Linked DNA regions of Homo sapiens. The protein of the gene in region 5 purifies or fractionates together with the protein of the main gene of each other region. This does not show direct contact. Each region holds a gene or a part of one and is shown on either strand. Other genes may lie near its edges.

The links.
Region 1: the proteins of NFATC2IP (region 5) and EIF4G3 purify together in Homo sapiens (affinity purification with mass spectrometry; 2 studies listed by BioGRID and IntAct, with this or other methods). This does not show direct contact.
Region 2: the proteins of NFATC2IP (region 5) and SLX4 purify together in Homo sapiens (affinity purification with western blotting, with the first as the bait; one study listed by BioGRID). This does not show direct contact.
Region 3: the proteins of NFATC2IP (region 5) and OSCP1 purify together in Homo sapiens (affinity purification with mass spectrometry; one large-scale study listed by BioGRID and IntAct). This does not show direct contact.
Region 4: the proteins of NFATC2IP (region 5) and SMARCA1 purify together in Homo sapiens (affinity purification with mass spectrometry; one large-scale study listed by BioGRID and IntAct). This does not show direct contact.
Region 6: the proteins of NFATC2IP (region 5) and RHEB purify together in Homo sapiens (affinity purification with mass spectrometry; 2 studies listed by BioGRID and IntAct, with this or other methods). This does not show direct contact.

The regions. Positions count from the first base shown.
Region 1 is NC_000001.11:21,174,098-21,178,193, reverse strand, and holds the start of EIF4G3 (eukaryotic translation initiation factor 4 gamma 3), read left to right. Parts: upstream 1-1,296; 5' UTR 1,297-1,472; intron 1,473-1,780; exon of another isoform or gene 1,781-1,801; coding exon of another isoform or gene 1,802-2,019; intron 2,020-4,096. UniProt on the Homo sapiens protein: Component of the protein complex eIF4F, which is involved in the recognition of the mRNA cap, ATP-dependent unwinding of 5'-terminal secondary structure and recruitment of mRNA to the ribosome. Functional homolog of EIF4G1.
Region 2 is NC_000016.10:3,608,061-3,614,157, reverse strand, and holds the start of SLX4 (structure-specific endonuclease subunit SLX4), read left to right. Parts: upstream 1-2,551; 5' UTR 2,552-2,598; exon of another isoform or gene 2,599-3,029; intron 3,030-4,591; 5' UTR 4,592-5,193; coding exon 5,194-5,728; intron 5,729-6,097. UniProt on the Homo sapiens protein: Regulatory subunit that interacts with and increases the activity of different structure-specific endonucleases.
Region 3 is NC_000001.11:36,418,625-36,423,923, reverse strand, and holds part of OSCP1 (protein OSCP1), read left to right. Parts: intron 1-457; coding exon 458-561; intron 562-953; coding exon of another isoform or gene 954-987; exon of another isoform or gene 988-1,027; coding exon 1,028-1,156; intron 1,157-1,704; coding exon 1,705-1,774; intron 1,775-3,308; coding exon 3,309-3,448; intron 3,449-4,869; coding exon 4,870-4,933; intron 4,934-5,299. UniProt on the Homo sapiens protein: May be involved in drug clearance in the placenta.
Region 4 is NC_000023.11:129,466,947-129,472,245, forward strand, and holds part of SMARCA1 (SWI/SNF-related matrix-associated actin-dependent regulator of chromatin subfamily A member 1), read right to left. Parts: intron 4,381-5,299; coding exon 4,258-4,380; intron 1,960-4,257; coding exon 1,827-1,959; intron 1-1,826.
Region 5 is NC_000016.10:28,959,224-28,964,264, reverse strand, and holds part of NFATC2IP (NFATC2-interacting protein), read right to left. Parts: intron 561-5,041; coding exon 402-560; 3' UTR 1-401. UniProt on the Homo sapiens protein: In T-helper 2 (Th2) cells, regulates the magnitude of NFAT-driven transcription of a specific subset of cytokine genes, including IL3, IL4, IL5 and IL13, but not IL2.
Region 6 is NC_000007.14:151,509,085-151,514,383, reverse strand, and holds part of RHEB (GTP-binding protein Rheb), read left to right. Parts: intron 1-5,299. UniProt on the Homo sapiens protein: Small GTPase that acts as an allosteric activator of the canonical mTORC1 complex, an evolutionarily conserved central nutrient sensor that stimulates anabolic reactions and macromolecule biosynthesis to promote cellular biomass generation and growth.

The DNA.
Region 1 (4,096 bases), on a different chromosome or scaffold from region 5:
ACTGCTTGAGATAATGAAGGGTACAGCGCTTAGTGCCATGTCTGGTAAATATTATATTAAAACTTGATTGCTCCATGACGCCTGCCATTTTTTTTTTTTTTTTGAGACGAAGCCTCACTCTGTCGCGCCCAGGCTAGTGTGCAATGGCACTCTCTCAGCTCACTGCAACCTCCGCCTCCTGGGTTCAAGTGATTCTCCCGCCTCAGCCTCCCGAGTAGCTGGTGCCTGCCACCACGCCTGGCTAATTTTTGTATTTTTAGTAGAGACGAGGTTTCATCATGTTGGCAAGGCTGGTCTTGAACTCCTGACCTCAAGTGATCCACCGGCCTTGGCCTCCCAAAGTGCTGGGATTACAGGCGTGAGCCACCGCGCCCGGCCGATGCCTGCCATTCTTTCCCACTCAATGCCACTGTGCTTAGGACAAGGCACCTGCTAAGGAGTGGGGTGTGCGGGGTTGGGGGTGGGAGTGATCTTGGCAGGTCTAGCTGGGAAGAAAATCCTTATCAACAAATGTCACCCAGCATAGGACATTGGGGAGCTGATCACTGGCTGCTGGTCAAAGGGCGCTCCAGTCCTGGGGAAGGCCTAGGTTTGAATCCATCCACAGAGCTCAGTTAAGGCTGCTGATTAGATATGGCGGCTCAGGTCATGTCCCCAGCCAATATGGGAGGCGGCAAGGTTCATCCAGATGAAGGTGGCATTTAGATTTAGGCTCTGTCCTTTCCCGATAGGGTGACCTTGGGCTAGTCACTTTTCCTCTGTGTCCTCTGGAAATGGGGCTCCTCATTCACCTCTCAGAGCGTCTGAGGAAGTGTCGACACAATGGGTGTGAAATGCGTGGGTTACAGGCCGGCGGGTGGCATTGGTTACGCGAAGTCCCCGCGGGGGGTCCCTATCCAACGGGTTCCATTCCGGTTAAGCGGTTCCTTCTCCAGGGGTTTTTCGCCTCGCCGCTGCCTCTCCGCCCCTGCGAGCGGGGCTCAGCGAACAGCCGACTCCGGGGCCATTACCATTGTTCTTCGAGGCTGGGCCGCAGGGGAGGACTCTCGCAAGCCAGACCTCGCCTTTGGTCTTTCCCTCCGCCCCGCACCCGCGCCGCTGTAAGCCAGCGAAGCCTCCCTCGCCGATCTTTGCCGAGGAAGCGAGTTAGCCCCTGAGCCCTCCCGAACGGCGGCCGAGGACGCACCCGAGCGTCTCCGAAGAATCCCGACCCCTAGCAGTCTCCGGAAAGAGCCGAAGAGGCTTCCCACCCTCGGTTTCCCGAGCCATTCCGAAAAAGTCCGAAGTTTTCCGAGCAGCCGTCCTGCCGGACTGCTGGAGGCGGCCACAGCGCCATGTTGGATGCTCTGCTCGTTGAGTGAAGAAAATCCACCGGCATCGCCTGAGCCCCGCTACCGAGAAGGGCGCCGCTTCCTCCGGGGAGGGGGATAAAGATCCCCCGCCGCCGGCCCATGAGGATATTGCCGTGAAAGGTCCGGTCTCTCCGCCTCCTGCCCCCGCCGGGTCCGGCCCCCCCCCTGGGGTCGCGTTGTCACGGAGACCGGCAGCCGGTGGTGCTGGCCCGCGGGGCGGCTGCTGCTGCCGGCGGCGGCGGCGGCGGAGGCGGCGGCGGCGGCGGCGGCGGCGTCGGGCGTGTGTGACCGGCCCCGGCCCCCTCCTCCTCCTCCCCCCAGGCTCCCCCCAGCCCCCCGCTCCCGCCGCCTCCCCGGGTCTGCCCCCATCCCGCCCCCCCGCTGCCCCCGGCCCCTGCACCCCGGCGCGCCCGGTCCCGCTCTGGGGGGGTTGGTGGCTTCGCTTTGCCATGAGTTTACCGCAGAAACCGGCTCTGAAATCAGGCACAGCGACTGCAGCAGGAACCGGACCCGGCACCGGAGCGGCGGCGGCGGCGGCAGCAGCGGTACCGCCTCCTCACCCGGCGGCGGCAGCAGCGGCGGCGGCGGCGGCGGCGGCGGCGGCGGCGGCAGCGGTCCCCCCTCCTCACCCGAACATCAGGGCCCTCCAGACTCAGGCGCCCCAACAGTATCCTTTTCACCTTCCTGTCGGCCCTTCGGTTCTCGTCGTCGCAGTCCAGGGGGACCCCGCAGCCCAGGGGACCCTCCTGCCGGCCGCCACAGCCCAGCCAGGAAAGGGACAGCGGCTCAAGCCCCTGCATCGGGCTTGGGCGGAGCTTTTGGGGTGCCCCGGCAGCAGCACTGCGGGGGGACCCCCAGACCCTCTGCAATACTGTGAAAGCTAGCCCCACTTGGCCATGCTTCTGCAGCCCCTTCCTTTTAGAGCTTGGGGTCCCTTCTCCCCTCCTCCCCTAAGGTACCCTCCCCCCCTTTATTGGGCAGAATTTGCTTGGTGCCTGGGACCAACCCTGCAGGGAAGGCTTTTCTCTGGTTGTTGTGAGGATTACACCCTCCTGCTCTTCACCTCCCCTCGGCTCCCCCTACAGCGGGACACAGTGGGCTTCCATAATTATTATTAGTACATAATAAACTTTATCGGTAAATTTCTTGTTTGAAACCAATCAGCTCGTTTCCGAGGTATGTTGGATTTTCAGTCTAAGGTGAAAATGTACAGAAAGCAGTTCCTCTGGATAATTTTTTTTAGTAATGGGAGAGTTGTGATGTGGTTTGTGGTAGAGATCTGAGGAGGAAATGTGACGCCGGACGCTTCCCTGTCTTTGACCTTTTTAAAGGAAGAGGAAGTTCACCGACATTACCCATCACCCACAAAAGTCTCACTTCTTGGAAGATTTGTGTTAGGCTGAATATTTTTAATGGGCTTTAATTTACTCCTCATAGGCCTGATGTCTAGAGAGTTACCAGGGCTTCTGGAGGAAAGTCTAGTATTGAATGTTTCTAATTTCATGTTATTTGCTCGATTGTAGAATTTTGGAGAGCTTTGATTGAAAAGACTTGGTGATGGGGTATTTTAGTCAAAAACTAGCCGGTGAAGGTAAAACGTTGAATTCATGTATTCCACGGAGATTTAGAAAGGTATTGCGTACCTGAGAATAACATTTCATCATGCATCACCTCCTCCCTACACCCACTGTATTTGTGTAAATCAATAAATAATGATTGGATGTTAGATGTGTTGTGTTTTTATGTTTGTGTCATCGTGCGTTTGACTTTTAGAGATTGTAGGATGTTTGAGCAAGTAAGAAGCTAACTGCTGTGAGGTCCCCAGATTATTTCACAGTCTGTAGTTTGATTCTTGTCTGTATAGATTACTTTGAGAAGGGAAAGCAATCTCCCTTCTAGAGTCATTTCAGGTCATTGTTTGTTTTCTGCCAAGTGTCATTTTCTCTGTTCTTTAAACCTAGTTCGTGATTTTCAATCCAGGCACCGCGGTGCAGTGTAAAGATAAATTCCATTCCAGTGTGACGTGTGTACTGATTTCATAATGTTTTTATCCTGCATGATTCTGTTCAATTAGGAATTGTTCACCGATGAGAAAGTGTGGTGATAACTTAGCGTTGCTTATGGAAAACCTGGTTGGTTTTGTTCAGTGTCTCTGGGGTGGGGGAAGATTGGCTGGTTTGCCTACTTAAAGGCAGAGTTCAGTGTTGAATCTTTTAAACCTGTCTTTGCTTACTACTTTGTGAGTTTAAATTCCTTTCTAATTTCATTTTTTACCTTGATTGCCTATACTCGGTTAGGACTTTTAAGTTTCTGAATTGTGCTACCACGTAAATTACTCATTACCTGCATCTTTGAGCTGTTTTGGCAATTGAACAGAAATAAAAGGAAACCTGTAGTAGGTGTCCTTGATGTACAGAGTAGTAAGGACCACAGTGCTGAATGTGACACTGTTTGGTGAATTGGGTGGCTTTTTGGGATACAGCTGTGTTTCAAGTATGCTTTTTCTCAGTGCATTTCATAGAAGGACTTATAAAAGCTCTGAGTTGGTTGCAACATTCAAGTAGTTACAAAAGCTGAAACTTAATTTTCTTTTGAATAAAAAGCACTTGTTAAAGAGATAAATTTAAGTGTAAGTTCCAGTGTAGATAATTTTAAACCAATTTTAGTCATATGGAACACTTACTTTTGTGTGGCTTTAAGTTTTTACTTTGCCTCATGCCATTGAAGCTAAAATTAATCTTCCT
Region 2 (6,097 bases), about 25 Mb from region 5:
GGCAGATCACGAGGTCAGGAAATCGAGACCATCCTGGCTAATATGGTGAAACCCCGTCTCTACTAAAAATACAAAAAATTAGCCAGGTGTGGTGGCGGGCGCCTGTAGTCCCAGGTATTCGGGAGACTGCGGCAGGAGAATGGCGTGAACCCGGGAAGCAGAGCTTGCAGTGAGCCGAGATCACACCACTGCATTCCAGCCTGGGCAACAGAGCGAGATTTTGTCCAAAAAAAAAAAAAAAAAAAAAAATTAGCCAGGCGCGGTTGCGGGCGCCTGTAATCCCAGCTACTCCGGAGGCTGAGGCAGGAGAATCGCTTGAACCAGGGAAGTGGAGGTTGCACACACCACTGCGCTCCAGCCTGGGCAACAAGAGCCAAACTCCGTCGAAAACGAAGCAAGGAAGGGAAGGAAGGAAAGAGAAATTATTTCAACAGCACTGGCCTCTCCATGTCGTCACTCAGTCTCCTCTATAAATTCAAGTCCCAAGACACCCTGCCCTACCCTTGCCTCTGGGCTGCTTATCATTCTTGTTCTGTCTTCTTTATCCAGTTGGAAACCATATTACAAACTAACTTAGATTTCCAAGCCAGAGAGCAAGTAAACACCTCCTAAATCCTTCATCAAGGAAAACCTCTTGGAAGGTTTTGAAGCTCAACATTCAGAATCAAATGTAGTCTTACCCAGTAATTCCACTCCTAGAACACAAAAACTTGTGTTATGAACACGAATGTTCATAGCAGCATTATTTCTAACAGCCAAAAAGTAAAAACATCCATATGCCCATCACCTGATACATGGATAAACAAAACATGGTCCATCCAAACACGTGATTATGCAGCCATGAAAAGGCATGCAGTACTGATTCATCTACATGGATGAAATCTTGAAAACATGCTTAATAAAAGCCCAGCAGAAAAAGCCAAGTATCACATGATCCCATTTACATAAAATGTACTGAATACGCAAAACCACAGAGACAGAAAGCCGATAAGTGATTGCCAGGGGATGGGGTCGGGGGAATTGCGGAGTGACTACGAATGGGTACGGCAGGTTCGATTTGGGGTTTTAAAACGTTCTGGAATTAGCGACGATGGCTGCAAATCCTGTGAACGTACTGGAAACCACTGAATGTACACTTCTAGTGTGCATTTTATGATACTGTATCTTTTAAAAAACATATTGTCTGCCCTGCAAACTGATTCCTTTACACCTCTCCTGTGTTCATTATTTCAGTGACTGGAGGCACACTACTCTCAGATGTTAAGGCCAGAAACCGGCAAATCGTTAACAACTGCGTCTTGACTATGCTCCATATTTCTCCATTCTTTTCGCTCCACCTCCTAATTCGGGCCGCTCTCACTTTTCATCTAGATTATGTAATAGCCTCCTAATGGGTGTCCTTGCCTCATCTGTTCTCACTGTAATTAGGCCTTTAAAAACAAAATCTTACGCCGGGCGTGGTGGCTCACGCCTGTAATCTCAGCGCTTTGGGAGGCCGAGGCGGGAGGATCTCTTGCGGCCAGGGCTCGAGACCAGCCTGGGCAACATAGTGAGACTCCCCCCCCCGCCCCCACCGCCCGTCTCTACTTAAAAAAAAAAAAAAAAAAAGCCGTGAGCGGTGGCTCACGCCTGTAATCCCACCACTTTGGGAGGCCGAGGCGGGCGGATCACCTGAGGTCAGGAGTTGGAGACCAGCCTGGGCAACAGAGTGAAACCTAGTCTCTACTAAAAACACAAAAATTAGCTGGGCGTGGTGACTGGCGCCTGTAATCCCAGCTACTTGGGAAGGTGAGGCACAAGAACCGCTCGAACCCGGGAGACAGAGGTTGCAGTGAGCCGAGATCGCGCCACTGCACCCCAGCCTGGGCAACAAGAGCAAAACCCCGTCTCAAAAAACAAACAACAAAAAACCTTCAATGGCTCCCGACGACCCCAAGTTGAAGCTCAAACCCTTAATACGATGTGTAAAGTCCCTCAAATACCAAGCCATGGCAAACCTCTGCTACCTTTCCCCCAGGCCCTGGCTGGCTTCACCCTAGCCCTGCGGAAGAGCTCGGGCATCCCCTCCAGGCACCTGAAGCGCGGCAGAATCCCCTCTTCACGTAGCTAACCCTCCCCGACCTCCAGGCCTCGACTCTCACGCCACCCCACCTGAGAGGAAGCTTCTCGGGCCCCCAGGCCAGATTTGGTGCCTCTCCCGGTCCCCCTCACACCGTCCACTCTCCGCTCCACAGGCAGGTATGCCCAGAGGGGGCCGCCGTTGTATCCGCGAACATTTCCTGAGCCAGCTGGGGAGGAACCAGACTTTATCTCACAGCTGCCACAGTGCCTTAAACTCGCCCTAACTCTTTCTCAAAAACTAACAGACTCCACCTGAAGCAAGCGCCGCTTCCGCCTCGCCCCGCCTCCTGCCGACCGGAAGCGCTGGCCGCCGCGGGCCCGCGCCCGGCGCCGCAGAGGAAGACCGGAAGCGAGGCTGCCGCACCACCGCGCGCGCCCGCTCTGCGCCTGCGCGCAGGCAATGCTCCGCGGGGGCGCGGGCGGCGCATGCGCAGGCGCGCGAGTCTCCGTTAAGAAGGTGCCGCGGCGGCGCCGGAGGTAGGAGGAGCCGGGCTGTGGGGCTGGGAGTCGGCACCCGGGAGGCGGAGGTCCTGTCATTTCGGGCCGTTCTCTCTTTCCTAAGGGAGAAGAGCCTTTCTCGCCCGTCTCCCTCGCTGGCTCCGTGGCCTCGGCAGGCCCGCAGCCCCGACGGAGAGGCAGGAGCCGCACTCGGGTGGAGAGGGGCCGGGGCCCGCCTGGAGGGAGGAGGGTGGCGGATCCGGATCCCCACGGTGGTCTCCGTCCGGGCCAGTCCGGGGATCGGGGTTCTCCGTCTGACTTTAGAGCCGTTAGAGTCTTTGGCAGCCCTTTTCCCAGACGGGGAACCCCTCAGCCCCTTTCCGTAGGTCGCCGGGTTGGGGGAAGCGGGAGGGTCCGCCCCTTACCGATCCATTCATTCATCCCTCGCCTGCTGTGAGCCGTGGGCTGCGGTAGGTACGAAGCAAGGAGGCACAAGTCCCCTTCCCTCTGGAAACCTGCAGGCTTGCAGGATCCGTTATGTCATTCAGTAAATCTTGACTGGGCACCTATAGGAGGAGATAGACTGTTGTGAGGTTCATATCAACAGAGATGCGGAGATCAACACAGTTGTGGAGGTGGAATTTGTTCCAGCCGCTCCCCGCATCCAACAGGATAAAATTCACTTTGCCTAGCCTGACCTTCCAGGCCCTTGTGAGCCAATCCTTTCCTCTCCCCGCAGCGTTTTCTCCTACACCTTTCTCTCTACTCCCATTATACCGAACTCTTTGCAATTCATGAATTCAACAAGTAGTTGTGGAGCACTTATTTCAAGTCAGGCACCAGATCAGCCAAAGAGGTTGCAAAGTAATAGATGGATCTCTACCCTCCTGAAGTGTTGAGCTTAATGGGGGACAGATAATAAGCCGATGAATAAAAACACAAGAGCGGATAGTTTCGAACCACACTTCCTGGGTTTGATCCCAGCCCTGCCACTGTGAAAGCTGTTCCTGAACTGGCTTTAGGCCAGTTCCTCATTCTGCTTGCGCGTGTTTCCTTGCCGTAAAGACAGGATGACAAGAGATTCCACCATATAGGCTTCTTGTAAGGATTAAACGAGTTTGACTTGGAAAGCAATTGGAACAGTGCTTGGCACACAGTAAGCATTCGATAGATATTACCTGTTTCATATGATGATAACCTATGACAGATGCCATTGTGAAAACAGTGGGCGATGATAGGGATTAACGGGGATGGAGACGGTCCATAAAGGATTAGAGGACACTTCTCTAAGGGGAAGACACAGAAGAGAATGCGCCAGCCATACAAAGTAGATTCTAGGTAGGAGTATTTTCAGCTCTGGAAAACAAAATGATTAATTAGATTCCTTGGACAGTGGAGATTGCATTATTGTATTTGAAAGGAATAACTTTCTGCCATTGGGTCATTCAGTTTTGATTTTTGAACCCCACTTAGCTGTGTGCCAAAGTAAACAACCATGCTCACGAGGCCCAGCCTTTGCACACAGGCGACATTCCAGTCATCCAGGTTTGGAGAGCCTTGCTGGGTTGAGAAGATAAGTAAAAGTGACCTTTTCTCTCCTGAGTGTTCATGAGAATATAATGTCTCTTTCTGTCTCTTATGTTGCAGTATTTACAGAAAGAGCCTCTTTAACAGCCAGGGGTCTTAGATCAGTGTAGGAGATAGTTTTCCTAGATTTGGGGATCATCCTGTTTCTGTGGTGACTGCCTTTTATGGGGTTTGCTCCCTAAATTTCAGTTAAGAAAACACTCTCCCAAGATGCACATATTTTAATACCTGTGGAAGAACAACATGCTTTGACAGGTTTCTAGGTCCTTTTGTTGTGATGTCTGATAGGACGGTTAGACCATGTTAACCAGGCTGGACTGAGTATTTGACAGTATTGTTACTCCGAAGACTTTTCCCTCACCCCACATGCCCTTGTCCCTCCCTGGAAGAACTGGCATAAAATGACAATGTCTGATTACACTTACATGCTTTTGGTTTTCCACAGATGTGTAATTAAGTGAACCATATATGTTTCATCATCATGGAGATCTTGGAGAATTATCTGAGCACCAGGTTCATATGTATTCGATCTCAGAGGCATCTATTGGACAACAAAACACTCTTTCAGTTGTGAACTTTATTTATTTATTATTATTATTTTTTGAGACAGAGTTTTGCTCTTGTTGCCCAGGTTAGAGTGCAGTGGCACGATCTCGGCTCACTGCAATCTCCGCCTCCCAGGTTCAAGCGATTCTCTTGCCTCTGCCTCCCGAGTAGCTGGGATTACAGGCATCTGCTACCACGCCTGGCCAATTTTTTGTATTTTCAGTTGAAACGAGGTTTCACCATATTGGCCAGGCTGGTCTCGAACTTCTGACCTCAGGTGATCCACCCCCCGCCTCGTCCTCCAAAAGAGCTGGGATTACAAGTGTGAGCCACCGCGCCCGGCCCAGTTGTGGACTTTAACAGAGGGAAGCTTTAAACATGTTTAACCACAGGCCCAATTTGAACAAAGATACTTCAATCATTATAGAGAGGAAAACAGTACTTTTTGTTCAATTGTGCAAACTCTCCAAGTATCTAATGGAGAAGTAGAGAAGAACCCTAATGAAACTGAGTGTGAATGAGGCTCAGCTAGGCTTCTACTTGGGTTCACTTTCTCATCTGTCTGCCTGTCCTGGGATTGACCCTCGCTCCTCTGAAGACCAGCCTGAAAGCCTTAAAACTGGTCAGATGATGGATGAGTCTGATGAGGACTTTAAAGAACTCTGCGCTAGCTTTTTCCAAAGGGTGAAAAAACATGGAATCAAGGAAGTGTCAGGAGAAAGGAAGACACAAAAGGCTGCCTCAAACGGCACTCAGATAAGAAGCAAATTGAAAAGGACCAAACAAACTGCTACCAAGACCAAAACCCTTCAAGGCCCTGCAGAGAAGAAACCTCCGTCTGGCAGCCAGGCCCCTAGGACTAAAAAGCAAAGGGTAACCAAATGGCAAGCAAGTGAACCGGCCCACTCTGTGAATGGGGAGGGGGGTGTGCTTGCCTCTGCTCCAGATCCACCTGTGCTCCGGGAAACAGCACAAAACACCCAGACGGGTAACCAGCAAGAACCATCGCCAAACCTTTCCAGAGAGAAAACCAGAGGTAATTTGTACTCTTTTAAACCAGGGGCTGGAAAACTTCCTGGAAAGGGCCAGATCGTAAATATTTTGGCTTTGTAGGCCACACAGACTCTGTCACAACTACTCAACTCTGCTGTCATAGTGAGAAAGCAGGCGTGGACAATATGTAAATGAACAGGCATGGCCATATGCCAGTAAAACTTTATTTACAAAAACAGGCAGCCAGCCACATGACCGTAGTTTGCTAACTTTTGGTTTGTTTTTATTTTTTAATTTTTAAGCTTAAAAAAAAATTTAGAGCTGGAGGTCTCACTATGTTGCCCAGGCTGGTCTTGAACTCCTGGACTCAAGCAATCCTCGTGCCTCAGCCTCTCAGAGTGCTGGGATTACA
Region 3 (5,299 bases), on a different chromosome or scaffold from region 5:
CTGCAAGTGTAATTTTTTCTCCCTTCTTTTTTTTATTTTTTTATTTTTTTGAGATGAAGTCTTACTCTGTCGCCCAGGCTGGAGTGCAATGGCACGATCTTGGCTCACTGCAACCTCTGCCTTCCAGGTTCAAGCAATTCTCCTGCCTCAGCCTCCTGAGTAGCTGAGACTGCAGGTGCCCACCACCACGCCCGGCTAATTTTTTGTATTTTTAGTAGAGACAGGGTTTCACCGTGTTAGCCAGGATAGTCTCTATCTCCTGACCTCATGATCCGCCTGCCTCAGCCTCTCAAAGTGCTGGGATTACAGGCATGATCCACTGCGCCCAGCCTCTCCCTTCTTATTGTTATAAACTCATAGGTCATGTTCCCAAACCATTACGCACTTTCCACCCTCAGAATATTGATGTCTATGAAAATATACCAAGAAAAATGACAATAAATGTATTTTTTTCCAGGTATCCATGTTTCTAAAGGACAAAGTTCAGAATAATAACGGTCGCTTTGTGTTGCCGGTGTCCGGGCCTGTTCCTTGGGGAACTGAAGTTCCAGGACTCATCAGGTGAATTCCCAACAATGATCAGAGCTATGTTTGGGGTGCTAGGAAATCAGCACATGGGCCGCACACGGAATGCCGCACTGCCAAGCCACTCACAGTCTGCCCAGCCCTTCTCTTTCTTCAGTAAAACAGCTATTGAAAAAGTCAGGTTCTAATCCCCACCTTGTCACTTAGTAGAGGGACTTGAGGCAAGTTACCCAGTTCCCCAGGACTAATTTCCTCATCTGTTAAATGGTTACTGTGTGGATGAATAAGATAATAGTGCTCTAACGTGCTTACAAAGCAATTGGCACATACATATGCTCAATAAATATTATTATTGTATTATTATTATTATTATTACAACCAGCACCTTTATCTTGAAGGAGAGCATGTATTCCTTTTTTGTTCTGTAGTACAAAGAATAAAGAAGCCTCCAGGACTACCTAAGCTTGGAGAACATTCCATCATGTCATACTTTGTATTGTAGAATGTTCAACAACAAAGGTGAAGAAGTGAAGAGGATAGAATTCAAGCATGGTGGAAACTATGTCCCTGCACCCAAAGAAGGTTCTTTTGAACTTTATGGAGACCGAGTCCTGAAACTGGGAACTAACATGTAAGCAAATTCTTCTCTGAGTGAATTCAAGTCCAAGGGAGGTCACTTCATTTAAAAAAAAAAAAAGAGAAACAGCCAGACTTCTGCTATGAAAATCCCTGCCGACAATAGGAGTAATTTCCCCTTAGGTACACTGCATACAGAGGCCTGACATTTCAAAGGGCACCCAGGAACGCCAAACATAAGGCAACTCAACAGAATGAAAAGATACATGATGTTCAATAGCCATGCAAGAGAACTAGCCAAAATCTGTGTTGCAGTGGAAATCCAGAAAGACTTATCCGTTCTGTAAAGCTGCATATATTTTCAGTGATGCGTGTTACTCTTCACAAGAGGAGGCATTGCCACCCAGCCTCCCCAGGTGTTTTTCTTTAGGAAGAAGTGAAATGTGAATGGTTAACACACACTCAGTTGCATTCTGTACCCACAGCACCTTTCTGGATGCTATTTAATGTCTCAGAATAAAAGCTACAAACTATGCTTACGAGTTAGAGAGAAGTCCGTGGAAAGGGGCTGGATAATGTCACCATTTTCTGTTGACACACCAGGTACAGCGTGAATCAGCCTGTGGAAACTCATGTGTCTGGATCATCAAAGAACTTAGCCTCATGGACCCAGGTGAGCTTCTGCCTTCCTTGCCTACCCTCACAGCTTCTCTCTAGATACGGAAGTCTACATAAAGAGAGGTGAGAACGCTTTAGATTTCGGATCTAGCCAACATTTCCCCTGTTGTGTGCAATCTTCTCCATTCCACCTTACGAGTACACAGGTTTTAATTGTAGCTTTTCATGGAGACTTCCAGTGATCTCACTAATTAGGTAATTTTAGGCTTGGCTCGGCCACCATAATTAAGAGGAACCACACACCAGGACATATGCAGTAGCGTAGTACCAGTGCCATTAGGTCCGTGATTGCTGACATCAGCACTCGTGTGTATTCTGATCATTAAAACATTTCTTTTTAATGTTTCCCTCTATAGCACCGTGGTAGCTAAGTCAGAGTGGGGGGTTTTAGTTTCTCTGAATTCCATCCTTAGAAGTTTTCGCTGAACTAGCTCCCAGCTAGCTGTAGGAGAGATCACAGAATATTAAATTATTCAGCAAACATTTATTAAACTGCTTCTATGGGCTGGGGACCCAGGGACACGAAGCTGACGTAGATGTGGTCCCATCTTGAAGGGGCCTGTGGTACCCTGGGAAAGACGGTGAAAGAAACAACTCAAATGAGGTGGAGGAAGGGCTGGCTGGGGATCCTGCACAAAGTGCTGTGCCAGAGGAATTCATGTCTGTCCAGTGGACAGGGATCACAGGGATCAAGAAGGCATTTCAGAGGCGGGGATATTGAAGTGGGGCTCTAGAGTAGGTAAACTATGAAACAGCAGAGAGGGAGAAATGGGCACACGGACCAAGGTGACAGAGGGGCAAGAGTGTTCCCGGGAGGAGGATGGCGGTGTCTCCCACGAGGCTTACGTAACGGATCACAGTATCATGGAGGCTTGCTGGCAGAGACTCGCCTGGACAGGACCCTGGGGCCTGACCAGGAAGGGTGGTAAACAATTTGGGCTTTGTTCTTTCGACAGGAGGCAGAGGGCTTTGTTTCAAGCCAGGGAGAAATGAGACAAAAACTGCATTTAGGTAACTGGTGGTGGAGTGAGGGGAGAGGCAGAACAGGGGAGGCCAGGCTACAAGGAAGAGGGGTACAGGATGAGGCAGGATGAGGACTGTGAGAGGAGGGAATGGACTCGAGGGTGTGTTCCCGGCCGTCACCACCTGAGGGCAGTGTGGCAGCGCCTCTGGAAGGAGACTGGACTGAGGCGACTTGTAAATGCTGAGGGAAACCGATTGACAGGAAAGGAAGCCATACACTTCTTCAAGGAGGAAGGTAGTGAGAGGAGAAACGTGGATCCCTGGGGCTTCCACTCTTGCGGAAAGTATGAAAATCTCTGGTTTGCAAAGTTGCTACATTCCCTCTGCTACTGACGTGATTGTTTTTCTTTTGGTTAAGGCTGCTTTCTACACTTTATTTGGACCCAGAAATAATTTAAATAGCAATTGTTCTACCTTATTTTATAATACCTACCTGTGTCTCTGAGGTTTTAGCAGGAAATGTGATTGCCTTCATGTGGCTAAAAATCATGCAACTGTTTCTGCAGGAAAGCATTGCTCCAAACCCTCTTGCTAAAGAAGAGCTGAATTTCTTGGCCAGGCTGATGGGAGGGATGGAGATTAAGAAACCCAGTGGCCCTGAGCCCGGATTCCGGTTGAATCTCTTTACCACCGATGAAGAAGAGGAGTATGTTTTAAACCTGTTTCGTTAAAGACATATAAAAATCCCAAGCATGACAAGAACACAAAATGACTATTACAAACCAGTGGCACTTATAAATATTTGTGTAAATATCACAAATAAAATACCAACAAATTTAATAATCTAAATAGCCCACCAGGATGAAATGGCCTGAATCTTCCAGAGTCATTCAAAAAAAGAGATGGGGCCGGGTGCAGTGGCTCACGCCCGTAGTCCCAGCACTTTGGGAGGCCAAGGCAGGCGGATCACAAGGTCAGGAGGTCGAGGCCATCCTGGCTAACATGGTGAAACCCCGTCTCTACAAAAAAAAAAAAAAAATTAGCTGGGTGTGGTGGCACGCACCTGTAGTCCCAGCTACTCGGGAGGCTGAGGCAGGAAAATCACTTGAACCCGGGAGGCAGAGGTTGCAGTGAGCCAAGACTGCACCATTGCACTCCAGTCTGGGAGACACAGCAAGACTCTGTCTCAAAAAAAAAAAAAAAAGAGACGGTGTGATGGTGCGCACCTGTAGTCCCAGCTACCCACGAGGTTGAGGCAGAAGGATCGTCTGAGCCCAGGAATTTAAGGTTAAGCAAGCTGTGATCATGCCACTGCATTCCAGCCTAGGAGAGAGAGCAACACCCTGTCTCTAAAAAATGATAATAAACAAAACAAAAAAAGAGTTATAATGTTTTACTTATCAGAGAACAGCTGAATAAGCAGTGTTAGAAGCCAGGATGACCAGATTAAGACAGTGTGTTAAGAAACCAGAGTGAGGTTGGAGCTTGATTTCCCTGTATTAGACAGTATAACCCAAAACCAACAGCAATAGTAAATCACCCACGGTGATTTATAGTGCTTTACAGTTTACAGAGCACTTTTGCATGCATTATCTCATGTGATCCTCCTCAAAACCAAGTATTTGGCGTGAGTGTCACCTTTCATTGAACTATTAATAACTTCTTTTGTTTAATTCTGTGTGACAGGTACTATGTAAAGTCCTGGGAATGCAAAGATGTAAGACCTAGAGCCTGTCCTCAGGAAGCTCTCAGCTTAGTGGGAGAGTGAACGTGTACAGATATAAGTTATTTCAGTGCTGTGTCATGAATGCGCTAATTGAGGACAGTGACTGACTTTGCACTGGCAGATTGAAGGAGCTGGCATTTGATCTAGGTCTTGGAGTTTGCCAAGCAGAGGAAGGGAAGAAACATTCTTGGCAGGGCTTATAATGTGCAAAGTCACAGAGAGATAAAAGAACTTGACTTTCTAGGTCGTAGGGTACATTGGTGGGAGATGGGGTAGAAAGTTTAAGAGAAATGGCAGATGAGGCAGAAAAAATAGGTTGCCAACTGATCAAGAGCCAGTTTGCCATGCTGGCAGGGAAAGAACCCTAATGTTGCACCCATTTTCTTTACCATCTCATCCAGACAAGCAGCGCTAACCAGGCCAGAAGAGTTATCCTATGAAGTTATCAACATACAAGCCACCCAGGTACGTACAGGGGATAACACAGGGTCCAATCGTATTCGCTTCCTCATCTTTTTTTTTTTTTCTTGAGACAGGGTCTCGCTCTGTCACCCAGGTGAAGTGCAGTGGCTTGATCTCAGCTTACCGCAACTTCCACCTCCCAGGTTTAAGCAATTCTCATGCCTCAGCCTGCCGAGTAGTTGGGATTACAGGTGCCCGCCAATATGCCCAGCTAATTTTTTTTTTTTTTTTGTATTTTTAGTAGAGGTGGGATTTCACCAAGTTGGCCAGGCTGGTCTTAAACTCCTGACCTCAAGTGATCCACCCGCCTTGGCCTCCCAAAGTGCTGGGATTACAAAGGTGAGCCACCGTACCCAGCCTCCCTTCCTC
Region 4 (5,299 bases), on a different chromosome or scaffold from region 5:
ATATGTCACATGACTTCAATGAAAGGCCTTTTAATGACATACTCCACATCCTCAAGCTTTTCATTTTTAGAGCCTATCAAGAAAGGTATGTGAGCACTCTGATTTTTATAAGCACCTGTGTTCATTTACTCATTCACTCACATATTCATTCAACAAATATTTAAACACTTGCTATGTACAGGATACTGTATATTCATGGGTGGTCAATTGTACACATTTCTTCTCTTACTGTAACCAACTACAACAAACTCATTGCAATCTCCTCACCCTGTGACATGGCCCCCAACCTGGCAGGCAGCAATTAAATAGTCCTGAGCTAGTCATGCCACCTGGCTTGGTGTCAAATTTGAAAGAAAGTCTGACAGGATCATCTTTTTAAATCACATTTTTTTCTTGCAACTTCACATACACCGATGTTATCTCCCTGCCTATCTTCTGAAAAAAATTCTTCTTAAAAATCTCTCTGCACATACCCTTTTACATTCTTTTCATTCAACTCTTGATGCTAAAATTTCTCTCTTCAATCTATTTTTTCCCCTAAGCCTCCAAATGCCCTAAATTTATGTGCTAAATGTTCAGAGTAATAGTAATATCATGCTGGTATGAAGGAAAAGGAAGTTCATATACTTAATGTTATATTATATGTAATAAAAACTCAATACAACTGACCTCTGAAGTCCCCCAGAAGACTCTTTTAGATTTCCAGAAGAAAAAAAAATCTCTCTAATTAAATCTGGATTTCTTCAAGCACTAGCATGCTAGATAAATTAAAAGCTGTTCCTAGCTATTATTAATCTTTAGTATATTTATTGGTACTGTAATGTTTCTTTCCTACTATTGCAAAAACAGAATTTCAGTGGTAGGGTTAAATAGATTTGGGGCAGGGGCTATCATAGAAACTTAAACCTACTTTGTAAACTTAAACCTACTTTGCCATTGTTTCAATGACAAAAAATGCTCTAGATTCTAAACATCTTGTTTCAAATGATAAGTTTAAGAGCTGAACCTATTTGGAAGTTAGAAAAGTCCCATGTACTACATATAGAAAACTTGCTAGACATATTTACCTATTTTTAATAAGATTTCTGGATAGCTAAACACGAAGAGGTTTCGCCCAGGGAGGGCACCAAAGCGCTGCGCCCTCTTGGCCCATACTTTGCCCTACACGCTTCATCTGTATCCTTTACAATACCCTTTATAATAAACCAGTAAGTGTAAAAAAAATCCATATGCTTCAGCAGCTAAACTGATTCTGGTCGAGCTCAACAACACAGGTGAGTAAGAGAGGGAGAGGATTTGAGGACCAGTTAACAGATTGATTAAAGCAATCTTTTCAGCTCTACGCCCGCTAGCCCCAAGTTAATGGGACCCACAGGAACTCTCTGGAATAGGGTGGAACTCTGAGGGTGTTTGAGCATCTAAATGGGCCTGACAGGAACTCTCTACTTTAAGGACGACCTAGAAAGAAAGGCACGAATTCAATCCACTGAATGTGAATCTCAGAACTGAACCAGAAGACCAAATTCCAGAGGTGGGAAGGTGGGAAACTAATTTTGTCAATGCTTATCCAAGAGCCACCCTTGTTTTATCAGAGCTTTATTTGCCTCTTTTAGCTAGGTGATAGAGACAATAGCAGTCAGTTTGTTAGGATAAATCTTATAACCTTTCTTATAACCTTTTCATAGAAATACAATTATAGTTTATACTCTCATCTATGTCTTATTCATAAAAGTTTAAAACATCTCTGAACAAAGGTACAATTAAATTGATGCTAAATAAATGAATAACGTTAAAATACAACACCATGTTTCAAATTATATACAAACCTGAATACTCCATGACCTCCTCAGGGGATTTGCCCTCTACCTCTCGAGCTATGTTATCAATGTCATCTCTTCCATATTTCTCATTAGCTTTAATAAACTGGTTAAAATCTCGTTTAGTCCAGTTTGTGAAACCCTGTGAACAAAAAGTTAAGCATTATCAATAGAGGTTAAATTAATAAATCCATTTATTGCCCTATTTACTTCTATACAATGATACATTAAAAAACACTTTAAAAGACTTAAAATGTTTCTCCTTATAAAATTGCACATATTTTATGTTGGAATCAAAAGTTGAGTGAGAGTTGTTATAGAAATAACTGCTTTTCTATTACAAAGAGAATGTTGATACATAGTTCGAAGATCTGTAGTTTTTAATTTCATATTTTATAGATGCCTACATTAAAATACAAATGCATGAAAATAAAAATGCTAATATAAATGCTGAAGTCGTGATATTCTAGTACTTCAATGATTTTTTTCACAGATCTGTTCCTACATAAATTAAAAGAGAGAAATGTGGATGCACTAAATCAAAAGAACACTGAGGAATAACCAAAAGATAATGCAAAAAAAAATTGTAGCTCTTTACATCATTCTGAACTAGTGTGAATAAATAATTTCTGTTCTAAATTATGTTCATAAATAGAACTTCTACAAGCAGAACGTTATTGGAGCCACTCAATTTCTTTACTAAAACATAAAACACTTTAGCCAGTGTTTTAAATTCCCTTGGCATTATTAGCATGTCTGTGAAGTCACAAGACCAAGAATTTGTCTTCCACTCCTCGAGCCCCAACTCACATAAATGTGATACTCCAGACACTGCAAAACTCTATCCCTGGCTTTTAGTTGATAAAGATTTCAGATGACCCCACATTTTGTTCCTACGTACTGCCATGGTTTTTTGAAAAAGATTAATTATTTAAGGCAGCAGAGAAGGACAAAAATGAATTCATATACTAGGAGAAGCAGAAAACTGATTATATTTCTAATTACAAACTAAAATATTATCTCAGTTGAGACTGTATATTCATGTTATACCGTACATTCACAATATACTCCAAGTCATGTAGCATTCTAAAGCCATAACTTTACTTTTACATTCAGGAAATACATTTTGAAAATAGAACATGAATATTTAAATGTTTTATTTTATTCTGTGGTAAGTTCTAATATTCAGCCATCTGCCATTATATTTTCAAACTAAACTTTATTACTTCCAGGCATTTGGCTCAAAAACTTATGAATGTAATTTGTGAAAATCCATACAATAAAATTACGTTATAGCAAAAAAAACCTATATAATAAATAATATACAAATATAAAAACTATCTTTCAATAATTAACGTGGAGAATTACCTACTACTATGCATCGCACATTGTTCAAAATTTGTTGAATAAATAAATCTTGCTGGCAACCCTCTATACTAAAGTAATGTCCTACGGTACACATTTTGTTTATTTTGCAAGCCTTCTATGCTGAAATTTTTATCTTCTATAGTTTATTTTAGAAGTAGAACACTCGTAAAACTCATGATAGCAATAATGACTTAAAAGCATTAATATTTTGTTCAAATGGAAACCTTCCTAATTTAATAATTGTTATACAATGATCACCTTAAATAATAATAATAATAATAAAAGCTTCAGAAATCTCTCATCATTGTATGAAAATTATAAAAAAAGATAAAAAGAATTTTGAAAATTATGAAATTATTCCATTAATAAAAAATTAGTAGAATATAACTTCAGGAGACAATTCACATCTATAAACAAAAGAAATTTAAATTTTCAAGAATATGTTAATAACAGGCTTGGCACGGTGACTCACACCTGTAGTATCAGTTGCACTTTGGGAGGCCGAGGTGGGTGGATCACTTGAGGTCAGGAGTTTGAGACCAGCCTGGCCAACATGGCAAAACCCCATCTCTACTAAAAACACAAAAATTAGCCAGGCACGGTGGTGGGTGCCTGTAATCCCAGCTACTCGGGAGGCTTGGGCAGGAGAATCACTTGAACCTGGGAGGTGGAGGATACAGTGAGCTCAGATCGCACCACTGCACTCCGGCCTGGGTGACAGAGCGAGACTGTCTCAAAAAACAAAAAAGAATATGTTAATAACTACTGTCTATCAGAATTCAAATGTGGATTCACTGACCTTATTATAATTGGCAAAATGTATGTCAAATTGCTAATACTTGACACTTATATTTTGCATATACATACTATCCACTATTTCCAAAAGGGCATATTCTATAAGATCAATTTTTAAAAATAAGGAGATTTGGTCTAAACATGTTTACAAAATAGCCCTGAGTTTTGTTGGTGTGTCACACTAGGATACTAGGCCCATACAATAAAAAGTGTGATCTATATTTTCTTTTTTTCTATTGATTGACTGTAAGTATTACAGCCATTGAAAATATTTTACTTGTGTGAGAAGTTTTTCCTTTTCTTCAGTCTCTTCTGGTGTAAGAGGTTCAGCTCCATCAATCTTTTTTTGCTCTTCTCTTTGAGCCAGAGCTGGATTTGGGATATCAGGATTCCTTGGAACCTATAAATCAAGAGATAAACTAAGAGTAAACTGATGAGAAAAATTAATTACTAAGGCTGTATATACACATATCAATCTTTAGAGTTATTTCAAGAGTAAACAATATAAAATCATAGCCAGAATGACACACGGTCCTCTCCACATTTCTGCTACCATGATCCTATTGAAGTAAAAACCATTCTTGTGCCACATGATATTCCATAGTTAAAACTCACTGGCAAATGCCACATTAGATTTCAGATATGATTATACCCTGGAACAAAGTCTACCCTTATACTATTGTAATATACAGAACAAACAAAAAGTTTAGTGGTAAAAAACAAAAAAGAATCCATATTCCCCTGGCAACACAGAGCAGAATGGAGAAGTGGCAACGCACCTGAACATTACATCCAACAGTCTGATCAGTTCAACATGCAAAAAGAAAGGAGTGCTTTTATTGCCTGCCAAGGTATGTAAGGGGAGAGAGCATTTTTACATAAAATGGAAAGTTTGGAAAAAGTTAACAGGATAATGAAGAAAAAAGAGGAAACAGAGAATATAAGAGGGAAGGGTATAGTAGAGCACACAAATAGCTATGATAGGACCAGTGGTCAAGGAGGAAAAGACTACAACAGCAGTGACCAACAGAAATCATATATGGTGTTTTGGGTACAGAACTGCAAATACAGTGAAAACTGAGAAGAGAACTTGAGTTCAAAAGATAAGGACAGAAGCTCAGCTCTCCAAGAAAGCAAGTTGTCACCTGTATCTCAAAACTGTAGCCTGCAGAGCCTCAGTGTATCACAGTGAGCATATATAACCAATGTGGTTCAGCAGTATGGGGCTGAACTATACTGTGTGTATGGAGGAACAAATGAAGTCTCTCAGCCTAAAGCCTGATACCATCGCTATGTGCATCTGCAGCTACAAGGAAGCA
Region 5 (5,041 bases):
GGTGTAAATCCCAGGCCTGGAAGCTCCTACCCAACCCTCATTTGTTTCAACTCACTTTCAATATGTGCATAGTTTCATAAAGCAGACATTTCCATGAGGAAAAGAGGATGGTGGTGAAAGGGGAGGGGTGAAGGGACATCTCCAAGTCACAGAGGCTGCAAAACTCAGCATGACTTGTGGACGGAGCCACAGGCCACCCAGGGCAACAACACCCACATAACTCACCAAGTGGTTAACGGCTCTAAACCAGGGTCAACAGGAGAGGGGACAAAAGTCACTCCTTGATTTTGCTGCAGCTTAAAGATAAGTTCTACCTCAGCTTATGCTAGCCCTTATGGGGCAAAAAAGGGAAAGTCATTCTCCCCAAGTCCAGGCTGGGCCGTCAAACAGGGAGTGGGGTGTCAGCCCCAGACCTCAATGAGGTCCCCAGATTCCATGCCCAGGTCAGCTGGCAGCTCCCTGCCTGAAAGCTTTGTCCCATCAAAGAAGAAGGAGAGCTTCCGTCCCGACAGTCCCATGGCCTCCTCATAGTGGGACATGAGGGTCTTTAGAGGGGAATCCTGGATGGAGACAAAAGAAAATGGACGTCAGAACATGAAAGGGGGCGGGGATCCCGTAGGGATAGACGAGGAACTTGGGACAGGGAGGATGGCGGCAGGGGCGGAAACAATAAAGTCAGGGCCCCATGCGGGGAAAGGAGAGAGGACAAAGAAGCCAGCCCAGCCAGGCTCCTCTCTGGGAGCTGGGACGAATCCTGTCATCCCTCTGGGCTCCAAGTTGCTCAGGTAGAGGACGGGGGCCACGAGCCCAAGGCTTAGGGGTATAGGCTCTAAGTCAGGCAAGTCCTCCTAGCCTCAGCCTCCTTCCCTATGAAACAGAAGTGTGTACCAATGACTAAGAGAGCCCAGATTCTAGAGTGAGGATGAGTCGAGCTGGAGGCCAGGCTCTCCCACCTATTAGATATGTGACCTTAGAAAAATGTTACAGGTTATGTTCCCCAGAGAAGACACCTTGTGGTCTTAACCCCTGTTAAGTGTGAATGTGATGTGATTTGGAGACGGGGCCTTTGCAGATGCAATCAAGTTGAGGTTGTACTGGATTGGGACGAGTGCTAATGCCGTGGGACTGGTAGACAACTCACTGCAACCTCTGCCTCCTGGGTTCAAGCAATTCTCCTGCCTCAGCCTCCTGAGTAGCTGCAACTACAGGCACAGGCCACCACACCCAGCTAAGTTTTTGTATTTTTGGTAGAGACAGTTTCTCTGTTGCCCAAGCTGGTCTCAAACTTCCTGAGTTCAGATAAGCCACCCACTTTGGCCTCCCAAAGTGCTGGGATGACAGGCGTGAGCCCCCGCACCCAGCCTGGGACTGGTATGCTTATGGAACAGACACAGAAACAGACATGAGGGGAGAACACACGTGATGACAGAGGCAGAATGGAGTGCACCTGCAAGCCAAGAATGCCAAGGACTGTGGGCCGCCAGCAGGAGCCAGGAGGAGACAGGGCAGATTCCATGAAGAGACCCTGAGGGACTGCGTGATGTTGTCAAATATATATTTGGTCTTTGTATGTTTCCTGGTATAAAATTCCTAAAATCCCTGGGAAAGAGTTAAGTATCTTTTTGCATGCTAATGAGTTGACTGGTGGCTGGCAGCCCCTAGAGAGCTTCAGGAATGGTGCTGGTCACTAGAAAGACCAAGGTAGGATAAGACAGTTGGGACTTTTTCCCCACCCCTCAACCTCCAAGAAGGAGGGAGAGAGTGAAGGTTGAGTCACCACCAATAGCCCATGGTTTAATCAGTCATGCCTATATAACAAAGCTTCCATAAAAATCCAGAGGACAGGGTTTGGAGAACTTCCCAATAGTTGAACATGTGGTGATTCCTGGAGAATGGTGCCCAGGGAAGCTATGGAAGCTCTGCGCCCTTTTCCCATGCTGTGCCCTACACATCTCTTCATCTGTATCCTTTGTAACATCCTTTATAATAAACCAGTAAATGAAAGTAAGTGTCTCCCTGAGTTCTGTAAGCTGCTCTAGCAAATTAAACCCAAGGAGGGGGCGAGGTGCAGTGGCTCATGCCTGTAATCCCAACACTCTGGGAGGCAGAGGTGGGAGGATCAGTTGAGCCCAGGAGTTTGAGTCCAGCCTGGGCAACATAGTGAGACCCCGTCTACACAAAAAAAATTAAAAAATTAGCCAAGGGTAGTGGCACACACCTGTAGTCCCAACTACTCAGGAGGCTGAGGTAGAAGGATCGCTTGAGCCCAGGAGTTTGAGGCTGTGGTAAGCCAAGATCGCACCACTGCACTCCAGCCTGGGCAACAGAGCAAGACCCTGTCTTTTTTTTTTTTTTTTTTTTTTTTGAGACGAAGTCTAGCTCTGTCGCCCAGGCTGGAGTGCAGTGGCTTGATCTTGGCTCACTGCAACCTCCGCCTCCCAGGTTCAAGCGATTCTTCTGCCTCAGCCTCCTGAGTAGCTGGGACTATAGGCGCATGCCACCATGCCCGGCTAATTTTTTGTATTTTTAGTAGAGACAGGGTTTCACCATGTTGATCAGACTGGTCTTGAACTCCTGACCTCGTGATCCGCCCACCTCAGCCTCCCAAAGTGCTGGGATTACAGGCGTGAGCCACCACGTCTGGCCCTGTCTCTTTTTTGTTTTTTTCAAAAGAAAAGAAAAAAATCCTGAGTTTGTTTTCTTCCCCCATATCTTCAGAGACACTTGCTCTGCTAACACCTTGATTTCAGACTTCTACCCTCCAGAACAATGAGAGAATAAATTTATGTTGTTTTAAGCCACCCAACTTGTGGTACTTTGTTACAACAGCCAAAATACAAAAGTGGGGTGCTGCTGGAATAAATGGTTAAATGTAACAGTGGCTTTGAAATTGGATCAGGGCTGGAATAATTTTTTTTTTTTTTTTTTTTTTTTTTTTTCAGATAGGGTCTTGCTGTCTCCCAGGCTGGAGTGCAGTGGCCCAATCTCAGCTCACTGCAGCCTCAATCTCCTAGGCACAAGCGATCCTCACACCTCAGCCTCCTGGGTAGCTGGAACTATAGGCCTGCGCCAGCATGCTGGGCTAATTTTTGTATTTTTTGTAGAGGCAGGGTTTCACTATGTTGCCCGGGCTGGTCTTGAACTCCTGAGCTCAAGCAATCTGTCCATGTTGGCCTCTCAAAGTGTTAGGATTACAGATGTGAGGCACTGTGCCTGGCCAAAGCTGCAAGAATTTTGAGGTGTATGTTAGGAAAAACCTAGACTGCCTTGAAGAGACTGCTGGTAGAAATATGGACATTAAAGGGAATGTCCCTGCAGGCTCACAAAGAGGAGAGGTGCAGAGAAATCTCCTATCATCTTAACAGGATGCATATATTGTTATGAACAGAAGGCTGCTAGAAATATGAATATTAAAGGTGTTTCTGGTGAGGTCTCTGGAGGAAATGAGGAATGTGTTATTGGTAACTGGAATAAAAGTTTCCAATAAAGGTGGCGCAATCATGGCTCACTACAACCTTGATCTCCCAGGCTCAAGCAATCCTCCTGCCTCAGCCGCCTGGGGAGCTAGGATTACAGGTGCTGGGGTTACAGGTGTGAGCCACTGCACCTGGCCCAATTTCTCACTTTTGAAATGGGAATGTCTATCCTATGTCTGTCCCATCACTGTATTTTAGAAGCAAATAACTTATTTTCTAGATTTCACGGGTCCGCAGAGAGAGAGAGAGAGGAATTTTGTCCCAGAATGGACCATACCAAGTCTCATCCAAAACTGATTTAATGATTTAGAAAATAAGATTGGGACTTCTTGAGTTGATTATATTTAAATGAGATTTTGGGCTTAAGAGTTGATGCTGGGATGGGTTAAGACTTGTAGGGATATTGGAATGGGATGTATATATTTTGCAGATGGGAAGGCCATGAATTTGGTGGGGGCTAGAGAACAGTGTGTTAAGGGTTGAACTGTATTCCCCTGAAAAGGCACTTTGTGGTCCTAACCCCTAGTAAATGTGAATGTAACCTTATTTAAAGTAGGGACTTTGCAGATATAATCAAGTTGAGATGAGGTTGTGCTTGGTTAGAGTGGGGCTAGCCCAACATGACCTATGTCTTTCCAAGAAGAGAGACGAACACAGACAGAGACACATGGAGAACACCGTGTGATCACAGAGGGAGAGACTGGAGTGACACAGCTGCAAGCCAAGGAACTCTGGCCACCAGCAGAAGCTAGAAAGAGGTAAGGAAGGTTTCCACTCAGATTCTCAGACGGAACCAGGCCCTGCCAACACCTTCAATTCAGACTTCTAGGCTCCAGAAGTGTACAGGAATAGGTTTCTATTGTTTTAAGCCACCCAATTTGTGTATTTCGTTAACAGTAGACTTAAGAAATGAATGCAGCAGGCCAGGCGCGGTGGCTCACACCTGTAATCCCAACACTTTGGGAGGCCAAGGTGGGTGGCTCACTTGAGGTCAGGAGTTTGAGACCAGCCTGGCCAACATGGTGAAACCCTGTCTCTACTAAAAATGCAAAAATTAGCCCAGCACGTGCACCTGTAATCCCAGCTACACGGGAGGCTGAGGAAAGAGAATCACTTGAAACTCGGAAGGCAGAGGCTGCAGTGAGCCAAGATCATGCCAGACTTCAGCCTGGGCGACAGGGCGAGACTCTATCTCAAAAAAAAAAAAAAAAAAAAAATGACTGCACCAAGTTGCTTATTCCACCTCTCTAGAACTCAATCTTCTTATTGCCAAATGAGGATAACAACAGTGCTTTGTGGCCCACATCAGATTGTTGTGAAATTAAATAAGATCCTGAATGTGAGGAAATTATCCTCAGCACGGGGACTAGCACTTAGCCGTGTGGCCTTCATTGTTATTTTGATGGGTTTTATTGATTACCGTCTAAGGGTCCTTTCTGTTTTAATCAGAAGGAGTCAGGAGACCGAGGGAGCACCCAGACTAGGGCAGAGGGTACCAGTAGAAGCGGGGAGGGAAGTTGAACGATGGGTTTTCCCACTACCTAGGATGGCTGGGAACCCAAGAA
Region 6 (5,299 bases), on a different chromosome or scaffold from region 5:
TTTGAAGGCCGATATATCTATTTTTCTCCTGCCACTTATGCTTTTGGTGTCACATCTTAGAAGCCATTGCCTAATCCAAGGTCATATAGATTTACTACTATATTTTCTTCTAGATATTTTATCCTGTTAACTCTTACATTAGATCTGTGATCTATTTGTGGTTAATATTTGTATATGATGTGAGGGAGGGATAGAACTTTATACTTTTGCATGTGGATATCAAGTTGCCCTAGCTTCTTTTGTTAAAATAATGTTCTTTCTTCATTGAATTCCCTTGTCCGAGATGAAGTGACCGTCAATAGAAGAACTCACTCATTCCATTGATCTGTATGTCTGTCCTGCCAGTACCATACGATCTTGATTACTGTAGTTTTGTAGCTGGTTTTTAAATAGGGGCATATGAGTCCTCTAACTTTATTATTTCTGAAGATGTTTTTGGGTATTCTCAGTCCCTTGCATTTCCATATTGAATTTTAGGACTAGATTGCCAGTTTCTGCCAAAAAAGCAACTGCAATTTTGATAAGGTGTTTCACGGTTTTGCAGGTATCTTTTAATGTCTTAACAGCTGGATTCTCATCTCTGCTCCTGAATTCATTCCCTTAACGTTATTTTAATGAAGTAAGGAGTACTTGAATAGTTTTTCAGGTAGTTGAATATTCTTTGATACCGAAACTTCATAAGTGATAGTTTGCAAAGAATAGTTACACTATGCAATCTGAAATCATATTGATGAATTTGCCCAACTCCGCAGGTCTGCTTTATACTTGGAATGGATCTTCTACCATGCCTGGTTTTGTAGCGTTACTGGTCATTTGGAAAATATTTGTTCATCGTTACGCAGATCTTCCACATGTTGACACATTTTATTATACAAGCATTTTTAAAAATCACATTTGTTAATATCACCACCAATCTCTGCAAAGTCTTAAGTTTTAGAACACTGTTCGCTATGAGTGGTGCAAGTTTTCCAAAATTCTAATTTCCTCCTTGAGTTCAAATAATTTCCTTGGCAACATGCTACCAGTTTTTACTTGAATTGACTGTTTTGTTTCTTTAATTTCCAAGAAAATGTCTGCCAGCTATTCACATTTGCAATAATGATAGTTTGTCATCATTCTTGCAAGTAAAAAAGGCATTCCATGATAAAAGTGGCCAGTTCAGATCACTTCTCAAATGACTGCACAAGTGCTTTTTTTGGAAACAACCATCATACTTCAGTATGTAACAGAGGTGCTTTATGTGTACATCTCATTTTGTCGTGCAGAATATTAAAAAGACAGGTACCAAAGGGTCAAGATTTAATATAATTTTACTGCTTTTTCAAGGACACTGTTAAGTAGAAACAGCTCTTTTCCCACTGTGAATGCATGGTAGTAAAGAATACAGTGACTTACCACTCAGTTTGTAACTACTGTTTTTGATTCATGCCAAGGGGTGCCGAGCTAGCAGTTTTCCCTACCATTGCTTTTGCACCCTTAGTACAAATGGGAACTTTGTGGAAAAGGCAAATGATAACTTAATATTGCTATGAATATCGTTTTGACCTCATGAGACCCCTGAAAAGATTTTGGTAAACCCCTTAGAGGTCCACAGACCACCCTTTGAGAACCATTAAACTGTTGTAAGCTAGGATCTTGTTCACTGCTGTGCAAAATCGAATTGACAGTGACTGCATCCTAAATGCTGTTCACAGCGATATGGTTCCCACAGTGTTAGAAGAGCCTCCTAGGAGAGGCCCTGTAGCGTTGTGAGAGACAAAGATGGCAAGGCAGGAAAGAACTTGGCGTGGTTAGAATGGAAGGAAGCACGAGGGAGGCCAGAGAACATCAGGAGAGTTATGATATCTGTGTGCCTATTGGTTTGGCCTCTGATTGTGTTGCATTTTTGGATGAGTTGTGTTTGGACCTGGTGATGGCGAGGCTCCCAGAGAGTAGTGAAAATTGCAAAGAGTAGCAGGATACCAGAGACCCATATACTAATAATATAGTTTTTAAATACGAGTATCAGGATGAAGGTGGGGAGGAGTACACAAGTAAAAATAGCAACTTTATCACAGAATGAGACACTGCCACCTCTACCTGTGATTGTGGAAGGTCAGAGATGCACAATGCTTTTCTTGGGTGAAGATTCAGAATAACAAGTTCGCAAACAACTGTAATAGTGTCCATGGCTGGATTGTTCTTAGTTACTTGAATAAATCAGAACTGAACTTGCACATGATTGTGCAAGTGAGAGTATTATGAAATCTTTAGGGATCATACTTGAAGGAACCTTCATTCTTAGTTCTAATTTATTCTGAAGTACCAAATGAAATCTTAACATTGATACAGTACTCACGGTCTATCTTCGTCACGTCATTCTTGCTAACTGTGAGAATGCAAACTGCTGAGTCCTTTTAACATGAATTGCTGGATTGATTTTTAAATATAATCAGCTGTGCGCAGTGGCTCTCGCCTATAATTCCAGCACTTTGGGAGGCCAAGGCGAGTGGATCACCTGAGGTCAGGAGTTCGAGACCAGCCTGGCCAACCTGGCGAAACCCTGTCTCTACTAAAAATACAAAAATTAGCTGGGCGTGGTGGTGGGCGCCTGTAATCCCAGCTACTAGGGAGGCTGAGGCCTGCAGGAGAATCACTTGAACCCGAAGGGGGAGGTTGCAGTGAGTCGAGATCGCGCCACTGGGCGACAGAGCAAGACTCCATCTCAAAAAAAAAAAAAGAAATCTAACATTTTAAAGGTTCTGGAATACTATTTTAGTATTTTAATTTTCTTCAATATATGTTGGGCTTCTGGTTATTAAAAAAAAAAAAGGAGTTCCTGTAGGATTGGAGCTTTAAATCTAAACTGGTATTAGTTTAGAACAGGAAGTGCTAGAAAAGCCTTTACGTTGTGCTCTTATGGGCAAGTTAAGAAAGCAGGGCAGTTTAAAGATAGTGATAGAATTCACTCCGAAGTGTCATGCTTGCTTGGTTTGCGTCTTATCTGTAGTAGAATTGAGTCTTTCTCTCCCGCATTTCTCTTTTTGTTGTGCTTACATGTTTGCAGAAGGACTCCTCATGGACATTTGAAAGAGAAGTTGGTGTTTTAGCAAGATACACCATCCCACCTTTTGCAGGATTGAGAGTTGAATGTTAATAACTACCTGATGGCATAGTACATAATTTGTGAATGGGGATGCAAATATGGGCTTTTACAGTTAATACAGTTTTATGAGATGAAATGCTTTTCTAAGACTTCTGTGTCTTAGATATAAATGTGTCTGCCTATTTTGCTAGCTTTATTTTTTTTTTTATTTTTTATTTTTTGAGACGGAGTCTCACTGTGTCATCCAGGCTGCAGTGCAATGTCGCGATCTCGGCACACTGCAGCTTCAACCTTCCAGCCTCAAGGATCCTCCCGCCTCAGCCTCCCGAGCAGCTGGGACTATGGGTGTGTGCCACCATGCCCTGGCTATTTTTTTATTTTTTTGTAGACATGAGGTCTTACTTGTTGCCTCGACTGGTCTCGAAGTCCTGGACTCAAGCGATCCAGCCACCTCAGCCTCCCAGAGTTCTGGGATCACAGGCTGAGCCACTGCACCTGTATTTTGCTGGCTTTAAAATCTCAATCACATTTGGCATTTGTTTGAAAGAGAACATTTGGGCCAGGCCCCCAAAGATTGAATCACTGCAACTGTTGGTTGAAGAGGACAGTTTGTGAGTGTTATGTGTTATTCAAATTAGGTGTTCATTAAGCATTTGAATAAATGCTCTACTTTGTACCAGTCACAAAAGCTAGGACAGTTATAATCCTTGCCCTCAAGGAGCTTCAGTCTAGTTGAGAGCCACAGGAACTTGTTCCTGCTACTGAGAATAATAATTGTTGGTGCTTTTGAAGCATTTACTGTTATGGGGTACAATCTTAATGCACATGTATTAATAGCCTTTAAACTCGGGTAGGTGCAGTTGTTACACCTATTTTGCAGATAAGGAAACTGAAGTACAAAAAGTTTATGTGACTTGCCCAATGTCAAACTGTTGTTAAGTGACAAAGCCAGGATTTTGAACTCAGGCAGTGGCTCCAGAGCAGGCAGTCTTTAATCAGCTACTACACGATTGTTACTTAAATACAGTTGGGATAGGTGTTTGAGAGAAATAATCAAAGGCAGGGCTAACTTGATCATCAAGTGGGGATGGGGGTGGTGGGAGAATTGTCTTTAAAGGAAAGGCAGTGTGGCTCACTGAGTGAATGAGAAGGGTGAGGTGTGAGTAATGAGAGAGGTCGGGACTCATGTGTTTGCCAACTGTCCTTCAAGAACAGTTTTGTCTGCTCTGTGAAAAGTTTTAGACTTTTTCCTAGAAACTGTGGGAAGTGACTGAAGGGTTTTAAGCAACAAATAAGACGATGATCTATACCAGGGACTGGCAGACTTGTTCTGTAAAAGGCCAGATAGTAAATATCTCAAGCTTTGCAGGGCAGGCCATGTAGCCTCTCTTGCAGCTATTCTACTTTGCCTTTGTAGGACGGAAGCAGCCACAGACAATACATCAACGAGTGGGTGTGGCTGTGTGCTAGTAAAACTTTATTTATGGATATAACACTTGAACTTCATCTGATTTTCAGTATCATGAAATACTGTTTCTTTTTCCAACCACTTAAAGATGAAAAAAACATTTTTAGCTCATAGACTGTACAAAACCAAAACAGGCTGTAGGCCAAATTTGGCCCCTGGTCTGTAGTGTGCTGATCCTGGCTTCCATCCTCCTGCTGTTCTGTGAAGTGGGAGGGGTGGTAAGGGAGTAGAAATGGGAAGACCAGCCAAGGCGCAGAGTAGATGAGATGAAGAGGACGCACATGGGAGATTTCCTTAGAGGGAGAATGGGCAAGACCAATGTGGAAGCTGTGAAGTAGCCTTCAGATTTCTCATGTGAGTGCCTGAGTAGGTCATGTTGCCATTGGCTAAAATCAGAAATGATGGAACAGGAGCAAGTTTAAGGGGTGGACCAGATTTATTTATGCACCTGCCAGATCCACACACTTTCCTTGCTTTCTGGCCACAGAGGCCCTAGCGACCACCCACACAGGGCACAGTTCCCATGGTCCCGAAGACAGGTGGCTGTGCCTACAAGTAGGGTTCTGAGGGTTTGCTGGCCCTGGGTCCTTGTGTCACCCAAGGATTTGACCAAGCATACCCTCACACCGCAGGATTGTTGCCCCAGAGACAAATGAGGTTGCTGGGCCCGGGTGGCCCCACACGCTCACGTTGCCCACTCAGGCAGGCAGTGTCTTACTACAAGGATGTTTGTCATTCCTGCTTGC